Linked DNA regions of Homo sapiens: region 2 is linked to region 1. Evidence: fine-mapped expression QTL. A gene starts in region 1. The other region holds a variant in brackets. All regions are shown on one strand. Distances are from middle to middle. Region 1 holds the start of DCSTAMP (dendrocyte expressed seven transmembrane protein). Region 2 overlaps LOC107986899 (a long non-coding RNA gene).

What was found. PIP is the estimated chance that this variant, and not a neighbour inherited with it, causes the effect.
Region 2: its variant is the best candidate, but not a certain one, in a credible set for the expression of DCSTAMP in hypothalamus (GTEx, PIP 0.88).

The regions. Positions count from the first base shown.
Region 1 is chr8:104,336,890-104,342,268 of GRCh38, forward strand. DCSTAMP (dendrocyte expressed seven transmembrane protein) reads left to right here and starts at 2,937. Exons shown (of 4, transcript NM_030788.4): 1 at 2,937-2,973.
Region 2 is chr8:104,313,427-104,318,805 of GRCh38, forward strand. LOC107986899 (a long non-coding RNA gene) reads right to left here. Exons shown (of 3, transcript XR_001745732.1): 2 at 5,377-5,379. Among named protein-coding and RNA genes, the nearest start is that of DCSTAMP, 24 kb to the right of the region's middle. The variant C/A (reference allele first, on the strand shown) is at 2,875.

The DNA of each region.
Region 1 (5,379 bases):
GCTGGTCTCAAACTCCTGGGCTGAAGGGATCCTCTTACCTTGGCCTCACAAAGTGCTGGGATTACAGGTGTGAGTTACTACACCTGGCCATAGCAATTTTTAAGGGGTTAAAAGCTACTAAAGGGACAAAGCGACAAGTCTTGTCTATGTCAGGCCATGCTGCTTCACAAAACACCCTCTCTCTATGCTGGTTTTCTAGAGGAGTTCCTGGGCTGGGTGAGTCATGGGTCTGAAGTGAGCCTAGTGTTATCTGTGCTTCTGTGACTCATCAAACCTAAAACCACCTCTGCAGGACAGAGATTCCTTGATGGCAAGAGAAAGAACAGAAGATGCTCCTGACCTTAGGGTCATACAGTAATTTCAGCAGTGACTACTCCTTGCTGGGCCCCTGAGGCAGAATCCCAGAGATGTCCTGGAAGTTCAGGCCCTGACTTCATTTGGTCAATGGCGTTGGCGTTAAAATCAGGATGATTCCTGTTTCTCAGGCCCTCTTAACCAACCATTGCTGTTCTGAGGCTATTCTTCTGAGAAGTGCAGGTGGATACTCAAAGAGTCCAGCTCACTAACTACAGACTTTCAAAGTAATTAAACAACATTTGAGCTGATCAGGTTAAAATTCCCAGCTGAGCATAGCTTTTCCATTCTCTGAGTTCTCTAGGAGTGCAGGAAAGAAATCTTGCAGCACCAGCTGAATCTCATCTGCCTATATCACAGCCCCTCCACCTTAAGTTGCACCAATTTGTAGGGGTCTCTGAGTTTTAAACCCAATTGGCCTCTCCCTTTCTTTCTTTCTTTTTCTCTTTCTCCCTTTCTCTCTCTCTCTTTCTCTCTCTCTCTTTCTTTCTCTTTCTTTCTTTCTCTTTCTTTCCTTCTTTCTTTCTTTCTTTCTTTTTCTTTCTTTCTTTCTTCTTTCTTTCTTTCTTCTTTCTTTCTTTCTTCTTTCTTTTTCTTTCTTTCTTTCGTGTATCAAGTTTACTACCTACCTCCTGGCCAAACCGGGCCACATGGTTAAGCCCAGATTCAAATTGGGTGGGAACTACAAAGTTACAAGGCAAAGGTCATGCATACAGAGAGGTCATTAATTGGGATCTACCACTGCAGGGTGGTAAAAGAGAATGAAAACTGATATGGTGGGGAATACCTTAGCATCTACTAAGGGAGTAATCAGGAAGATATGAGATATCCTGTGAAGGCTTCCCGAAGGAAGGAGAGGAAGGGAAGACCATTTCAGTTGGAAGAAGGATACATTATGGGAATAAGTCATTTTACTGGAGATATGAACACTTATGTAACCAATTCCCAATTGATAGACATGTGGGTTGTTCTACATATTCTCTATTACAATCAATGCTGATCTGTGTATCTAGCTATCCAGCTGGCATAGAGAGGCATATGGTGGATTTGTACACACACGTACACATACACATACACACTGCACACACATACCATGCAAATATAAGATAAATTCTTGGAATGACTAATTCTAGTAGCTTATAAATTTGTATAGGTATTGTCAAATCAGCCTTTTTCTTTCACTCCCAAGTTGGGAATTGCTGGGGACTCTCAAAACCATGTCACTGACTCCATTTTTGGTTGTGGGAGCTGGGAGCCCCTCCATTTCCTCTTCCCAGTTCTTTCTTCTGCAGCTGCCCCCAGGTTTGTTCTCCATGATCCAGCAACTTCTGTCTCCATCCCCCGTTCTCAGAAGGCTCCATCTCCTCCTTCCCCAAGAAAGTTGCAACTGCCCTCAGCTTTCCTCCCTCCCTCCTCAGGGAGTACCAACATCTCTCTCTTATCTTTATTCTTCTTTGTGAGGCTGATATGCTAAATTTCATCTAGTTTTCCCCAAACTCAAACCACTACCTCTCTACTGCTGCCTTCTCCCTCTCCATTTCCATCCCTAGCACTACTACAAAGGAACCCCATCCAGTCCAGCCGGTTGGCTTGCTCCTCCCCTCCTCCCACTCCAGTTCACGCTCCAGCCCACTGAAGAGTGGTGCCCACCCCTAGGCCCCTGCCTAAATGGCTCTTCCAGAAACACCAGTGACTTCCCACTCACCAAAGTCTGGGGCCGTTTCCTCAAGATCCTGCCCACTCCCTGACCCTTCCCTCCCTTGGGGCCACCATGGCTGCTTCTGGATGACTCAATCAGACACCCACATTGCAGTCCCATCCTTCCTGTTCAAATGAAAACATCTCATTTCAACAGCTCTCTTCATCTTCAGGACTAAGTCAGCCCCTTACACAAAGGACTCATGAGGGACATGCAGTCTGTGTGCCCAGCCTGAGCCCAAGGGTCTATTCTGATCCTTTTTTTTTTTTTAAGATAAAGGTTTTTGCAGGTATAATAGGGGTCTCCAACAAAAAGTAAAGAATAATTTTGTAGAAAGATTTTGAGACTTTCCTAACTCTCCGAAACTACACAAGCTGGTCCTTTTGACTTGGAAGCTAAATTTCTAAGATGGAAAGTCACATGTATGAGTGGGAGGCATGAAACCAATTATTCGACCTGTCTGGGGTCATGAGTGCAGAGGCGGCTCCTACGAACCATCTGCCTCTTCAAGTGTGGATGAGAGGTGGGTATGGCGGATGCTTGTCATTTCCCAATGGCTCGAGTGGATGTGGGGAGTATGGGAGTGAGGGCAAAAGAGAAAAGAGGGAGAGAGGCCGTCCAAGCTTTCACAACTCACTCTCTTGTGTTTGAAAATATCTGATTTCATTATTTTCTATAATTAATTTCTAGAACATCTATTCTGAGGAAAATGCTAGAAAGAAATATGCTATTCATTTGTATCAGCATTACTCTTTGTTGATATTAAATGGCTCAGTCACTTTATGGGGGAAATAAAGAGGTTGATTCATGGTGATGTGACCCTCTCGACACTTCTGGTTCCCTTTTTCCTGCTATATATCAAGACCTACAGCCCTTGGGAAGTGCATTTCTGCATTCGAAGAAGAATCTGAGAGAAACCTGTAAGTAAACTTTCAGAATAATCTTATTTCTAAAATTGCTTTTAAAAAAGTACTAGTAAATTGGAATAAACAATTGTGACCAGAGCATACTTTAAGGCCCCCTATACCCCGACAGTCTCCCTATGTATGGAAGTATCAGAAAGTCTTTTCATGTTGGTATCTGAATATCCTCTGCTCAGGGAAAACTGCAGCATGAATATCTTCTTATGGGTGTAGCCTGGGTATACGCGAGCCACCCTTCACTTTATGAATCCCCTCAGCTAATCCTCCTGGTGGTTATGGGGAGCCCTAGGCTGGCTCAGTCCTGCCTGGCCAACGATGCAGCTCCCGGCACCTGGCACACGCAGCAATGGGCTGAATTGTTCCGTAAATGCTATTCTGTTTACCTAGTAGCGTTCATTAATCTTTCCTTTCTTGTGTGAAGGCTGCTTTCACAGAGGAAGGCATTTGCTGGCTTTCCCAAGGCAAGAACAATGAAAACAAAGTCATGAGGAGTTCTCTCTACCTCAAATGAAGGCCGCAGCTCCTGCTCAAGCTATTTTGGCAGTCTGAGAGAACAGTACATTCTGAACCACATTGTAAGTTTGCAAGAGCTTATACAAAAAAGAAAGGGAGAAAAAAGGAAAAGGAAAAGAAACCCTCCATTCTTCTTTTGTTCCACTCCCAGGTGCTGGGCTTTGATGTTCTGTCTCAGAAGTGACTGCAGAACGCCAGCTCCAAGAACCAGCTCCGCTGCTCACTGCACCTTTCATTTCAGAGAGCATGGGGCTAGTGGGGACCTTAGAACTCAGCTAGCCCATAGGAGCTGAGGTCCAGGAGGTGACATGACCTATCCAAGGCCACGCAACCTGGCTTGGGTAGAGGCAGGTTGGACCACAGGTCTCCGTTTGGCGCTCTTTTCCTGTTCTGCTCTGTCCTTTGATCAAATTCCTTTTAAAATGAGATTCACATCAAGCCAGTGAGGGAGGCTGATGGGTTCAGACTGGGTTCCCGCAGGGGACCGGCAGGGCTGGTTGAGGAGTACAGAAAGAACAGAGTGCTTGTCCGTTTGGGTTTATTGTCCCCTGGGGTGTCTGCAGACTATATCTGGGCTTGTTGAGCATAAGCCATTGGCTTCTGCACAGGCAGAGTCAGAATGAACTGGTGTCACTTAATGGGAATTGCAGGACATCAGATGAGGCAGGAGCTTTGGAAATGGGGAGAGAGGGGAGCAATAAGATGCTCCCAAGGTCATTGTCTCCTGGCCTTTCCTCCAGAGAAGGTCACATTTCTTCCTCCCACACTTTCAATAGCAGTAAGCCTGTGGGTTTCTGCTTACCAGCTCTGGAGACACATGGGTGATGTGCAGCTTCAATACCCCTCCAGTCTAGAAAGCTCCTAGGGTGGGCCATTCATGTGGAGATTCTCATTATTATTTCATGGCTCCATTTTTTGTAGCTTCTGACTGGACCTTGTATCTGAAGCAAGGACACATTCATCTGCACCTTGAAAGTTGATCTGTGCTCAAAAGACAGTGCTCAGGAATGCCGGTCTCCTTCACTCATCAAAAAGGTGGCCAAACAGAGCTCTGTGGGTGGGGGCTGTGAGCCCTGTGCCCTCCATGCTGGGGCTCTCAATGCTCCCACTGACACTGAGATCCCATGCAGGGAAAACGATTGAGGTGTATGTACCTTGCAGAGGTGTCTGCTAGCTAGCATGGGCAGGGTTGATGTGGAAGTCTGGCTGTTTCTGTTTCCCATGGCAACAGCTTGGCCCTGCATGAAAGCAGGTAAATGTGGGCTCAAGCCAGATGCACAGACTGCATGGCTCTGCAGGGCTCTCAGCTCAAATCAGGGCTCTTCATCCCTAACCCTGTTCTGCTATTTTCCTGTTCCCTTCCACTCAGCCACAAAAAGGGCTTTAACCCCATGAAAGAGAGATGGGGCCCTTGGTGGTACTCTGCTGTGGACTGCTAAGGCTTCCCTGCCTGAGGTGTGGTAGAAACTGCAGTTCTGAGATAAAAGCAAGAGAGTGGCCATTACTCTAGGGATAGTGCTGTTGGTAAAAGCCAGAAACAGGTATTGTATCCTGGGGACACAAGCATGTTGAGTCAGGAATAGACATTATTGACAATGGAGGCAAAATAAAGAGAAATTACAGGTTAAAGGGATCAGGTAAACTTTTAGATGCTGCCAGAAAAAAACGATGGAGAGGCAGAGGGAGGGACTCTGTAAGCACAAGAGAGGGGAATAAAACAGTTAGAAATCTTTGGGCAAAAATAAACATTTCCGAGGTATAGAGGAAAACCTTTATTTGTGAGACTGGAACTTGGTTTAAGCATGGCTTTTAAATGTCTCCAGGGATAAAAGGGGAAAAGGTAATTCACAGGAATGGAGAAGAGGAGGGCTAAGGTGAGAAGCCAGCCAG
Region 2 (5,379 bases), 23 kb before region 1:
CATCTTTGACAAACCTGACAGAAACAAGAAATGGGGAAAGGACTCCCTATTTAATAAATGGTGCTGGGAAAACTGGCTAGCCACATGTAGAAAGCTGAAACTGGATCCCTTCCTTACAACTTATACAAAAATTAATTCAAGATGGATTAAAGACTTAAATGTTAGGCCTGAAAACATAAAACCTCTAGAAGAAAACCTAGGCAATACCATTCAGGACATAGGCATGGGCAAGGACTTCATGACTAAAACATCAAAAGCAATGGCAACAAAAGCCAAAATAGACAAATAGAATCTAATTAAACTAAAGAGCTTCTGCACAGCAAAAGAAACTACCATCAGAATGAACAGGCAACCTACAGAATGGGAGAAAATTTTTACAATCTACCCATATGACAAAGGGCTAATATCTAGAATCTACAAAGAACTCAAACAAGTTTACAAGAAAAAATCAAACAACCCCATCAAAAAGTGTGCAAAGGATATGAACAGACACTTCTCAAAAGAAGACATGTATGCAGCCAACAGACACATGAAAAAATGCTCACCATCACTGGCCATCAGAGAAATGCAAATCAAAACCACAATGAGATACCATCTCACAGCAGTTAGAATGGCAATCATTAAAAAGTCAGGAAACAACAGGTGCTGGAGAGGATGTGGAGAAGTAGGAACACTTTTACACTGTTGGTGGGACTGTAAACTGGTTCAACCATTGTGGAAGACAGTGTGGCAATTCCTCAAGGATCTAGAACTAGAAATACCATTTGACCCAGCCATCCTATTACTGGGTATATACCGAAAGGATTATAAATCATGCTGCTATAAAGACACATGCACACGTATGTTTATTGCAGCACTATTCACAATAGCAAAGACTTGGAACCAACCCAAATGTCCATCAATGATAGACTGGATTCAGAAATTGTGGCACATATACACCATGGAATACTGTGCAGCCATAAGAAAGGATGAGTTCTTGTCCTTTGTAGGGACATGGATGAAGCTGGAAACCACCATTCTCAGCAAACTTTCACAAGGACAGAAAACCAAACACCACATGTTCTCACTCATAGGTGGGAATTGAACAATGAGATCACCTGGAAACAGGGAACAGAACATCACACACCAGGGCCTGTAGAGGGGTAGGGGGCTGGGGGAGGGATAGCATTAGGAGAAATACCTAATGTAAATGATGAGTTGATGGGTGTAGGAAGCCAACATGGCACATGTATACATATGTATCAAACCTGCACATTGTGCACATGTACCCTAGAACTTAAAGTATAGTAAAAAAAAAAAAAAAAAAGAGCTGAGTCTGTGGCATTCTATTACGGCAGCTGGAGCTGACTGATACATTGCTCCATTTGATAGTTCTCCCAGGCACTGCCCCAGGCCTCACTCACTGCCCCTGTGTCATCTCTCTTGACTCATGTCTCTGAATGTCAGTGTGTAACACCTATGCAGTAATTTTCATTCTCAGTTTCGGTAGGTAGGTGATATGGTTTGGCCATGTTCCCACCCAAATCTCATCTTGAAATGTAGCTCCCATAATTCCCATGTGTCGTGGGAGACACCTGGTGGGAGTAAATTGAATCATGGGGACGGGTCTTTGCTGTGCTGTTCTCATGGTAGTGAATAGGTATAAAACCATCAAGAGATCTGATGGTTTTATAAAGGGGAGTTCCCCTATACAAGTTTTCTTGCCTGCCGCCATGTAAGACGGGATTTTGTTCCTCCTTCCCCTTCCACCATGATTGTGAGGCCTCCTCAGCCATGTGGAACAGTGAGTCAATTAAACCTCTTTCCTTTATAAATTACCCAGTCTTGGGTATGTCTTTATCAGCAGTGTGGGAACAGACTAATACAGTAGGCATAGTTTGTTAGGCTTCTATCAGCTGGCTGGTGTGGCCTTTGATGCCCACGGCATGGGGCAGCTAGGTAAGGGGTTGATGGAAACAGAGGGAAGACTGGGTTCCAGCAGCTGGTTTGAGCCATGGTTGCAGAGAATGGGAAAGAGGATCATGTAGACATTAGGCAGCTCACCTGCAAAGCAGCTTGATGGAAAAGCTCAGTTCATTCTTGAAATTCTTACTTATTTTAGTAGGTTCAGAAACGGAGAATGGGGGAGAATGACATTTCTTAGATTTTCCCTCCTTGGCTTTCTCCTGGATACAGCTTCCTTTCCTTAATGGATATCCTTATGTCCCTCTCTCCTATGGTACTTTCCTTCCTCTTCTAGCTCTCCACTGGCTTCCTGATCTTGCCTAGATAACAAGAGTTAAAGCTGCAAAGAGAACTAGGTGTTGAGCACCTCATTGTTTTGGACTCTGTGGCCGTTGCTGTGGATGAGATTGACTTAGGAGTTTACATTCTTGTGTTTTGGAGGCAGAAGATAAACAAACAAGGAAACTATCGGAGTGTAATGTGCTGATAATTAAAATGAAGAGATGAGAGTGCAACTGCGTGCTCCATCAGGGGATGGCTTTAGATTGGGTGGCTTTTGCTGCAGCTCTTGTGGTGTTGAGGTTGGGGGGGAGTTGACAATTTATGATCCACAACACCATTAATCAGGTTGAGAAAGTATCAGATACACCGCAGAGTTCTGCAATTTTGACTCTAAGTTACACAAAAAGTAAGTTTTCTTATCTATACCAGACAGAGGGTGTAACCAGGCCTTGTTAGAAAATGAATAAACAGTGATTCCAAGTGCCATTTCCTTTGTCTGTTTAGAGAATTTTTAGTTATCACAAAGCTTTCTTATGAGGTCTTTGATAAGGCAATGGCATGGTATTAAAAGCTATTATCTAAGAAAACAAAACCAATAGATGCATATTTTACCTGATGCTATCTTTAAGTGGCAGACATCGAGGGACA[C/A]TGGAAAGTAACTTGGGATATTAAAGCCAGGCACTGTCCCTTGGGCCTCAGCCCTAAGTCCAGGGTGTCCTTTCAGGTGGGGCACCTTTGTAGAAACATCCTCTTGCCCCAGGGGCAAGTTGCTGAGGGCCAGGAGGATTCAGTCCTCCAGGTCTTGGAGGAGCTCCAAGCTCTTGGCCTTGGAGGTGCTCAGAGGTAGCCCTTGGTATGGAGCTCTCCCTGGAGAGGAGTAGGGGAGGGAGCTGGGGAGAGGCATGGGTGGGGAGCACAGGTGGTGCAGGAGCAATTGGAGCATCCAGACCCTCCCTCCAGAGGTGGCTGGACAGAAGGTTTGGATCTTGTTGCTAATGTGCATTCCAGGACCAGCACACTGACCTTAGGCTCAGGAAGGGACTTACTGGTCAATTGCTTCTTTTGCGGGGCCTGTCAGGATTTGAAATGAAGCAGAAGCTCTTATAACATTCAGCCATAAATCTAAATCTTTTTTTTTAACTCAAGCAAAATAGTGAGATAACTTGACATTTTGCATGCTTAAATTTAGAACAGATGACAGAAATTGAATACTCATGTCATAAGCTGCTTCATTTAAACAAACACACAGAACCAGACTCTGCTTCATGTGACTTGGATCTTGAGAATGCTTCATCCTTTGCCAAAATTTAAAATCCTTAAGGTGGCTAATAAATATGGGCCTGAGAATGAGGTCACCTGACCTCCAGGCCTGGCTCTTGGTTGGCTGACAAAGCCACCCGTCTGGGCCTCAGTAAATCCTTCTCTGAGATGGCCTGGTGTGGTGGCTTTTGTGCCCAGAGGGCACACACAGTCCAAAATGAGCACACACAGTGGTGAGGACACACCTCAGGGTCTGGGAGCATGTGAACAGGGGAATATATGAGACTACCTTACAATTTATGCCTACTATGTCTAATAATGGTTGTCAATAACTGCTGGAAGCATGCTTTGCTTGTCTTTTTTTTTTTTTTTTTTTTTTTTTTTTTTTTTTTTTTTTTTAGAGACAGGTTCTCAGTTCATCACCCAGGCTGGAGTGCTGTGGCAGGGATCACAGGTCACTGCAGCCTCTAGTGTAATCACTCAGTGGGTTCTTCCTGCCTACTGTACAGAAAAGACCAGTTCACTGAGACCATGATACTGCAATTAAGAAAGAGTTTAATTGATGGGAGGCTGGCCATGTGGGAGATGAAGTCATCACTCAAATCAGTCTCCCCAAGAACTCAGAGGCTGGGGTTTTTATGGACAATTTGGTGGGCAGAGGGGCTAGGGAATGGGAACTGCTGATTGGCTGGGGATGAAATCACAGGGGTGTGGGAAACAGTCTTTGAGCATTGAGTTTGCCTCTGAGTGGGGGCCACAGGATTGGCTGAGTCATGAGTCATGGGTCCAGGTGGGGTCTATCTATAGGAGCAATTGGGAAAGTCACAAATCTTGTGCCCTCTGATTATATGACTCCTGAGCACTTAGGGATTATAGAAACTATGTCTACATTTTAGCAGAATTCAGGTCCCTCCCATAATCCTAATCCCATAGCCTTTCATTAGTTTTTGGTCCCTGAGCAAGGAGGGAGTTAGTTTTAGGGAGGGACTATTATTATCCTTGCTTCAAGGTTAAATTCCTTCCATGATTAGCTTGGCCTATGCCCAGGAATGAGCAAAGCCAGCCAGCCAGCCTGAGAGGCTAGAAGCAAGATGGAGTCAGCCATGCCATATTTCTCTCACTGTCATAATCTTTGCAAAGGCAGTTTCACCAACTCCTGGGCTCAAGAGACCTTCCTGCCTCAGCCTCCTGAGTAGCTGGGACTACAGACATGTACCACCATTCTGGCTAATTTTTAAATTTTTTCATTGAAACAGGATCTTGCTATGTTGTCCAGGCTGGTCTCAAACTCTTGGCCTCAAGTGATCCTCCCACCTTGGCTCTCCAAAGTGCTGGGATTATAGGCCTGAGCCACAGCACCTGGTTTACTTTGCCTGTCTTAAATCTCCCAAGTCTCATGACAACCTTATGAGGTATTACCATTTTACCAATAAGGATTCTGAAGCTCAGAAAGGTTAAGTAACTCATCCAGGTTCACACAGCTGTAGGTAAGGACCCATGCATCTGAGTGCACACGCCTGCCTCGTAGTCTCTGAGCACTTTCCATCATCACTGAATGGAAGGATGGGAATGGGATGGAGCTAGTGATTCTGATCCACAGACACTCCCCACTGGGAGTGATCATCTCTGGTTCTGTGTCAGCACTGGAGAGAGAGTTACTTGCTGGAGGGCAGGAGAAGGCATGAATGGAAAATGAAATGATTGATTCAATTTAGAAAAAAAATTATTGCTCCACCACCATGAGCAAGGTACAGTGTTTTAAAATTTCCCTTTCGAGAACAAAATGAATCTAATGGAAGAAAAAAAGAGAGGCAAAGGGAGCCCAATAATTTGGGTATAAACATTCCAGTTTAAATTACCTTTTCTTCTTCAAATATCACCTTTTCTCACCTT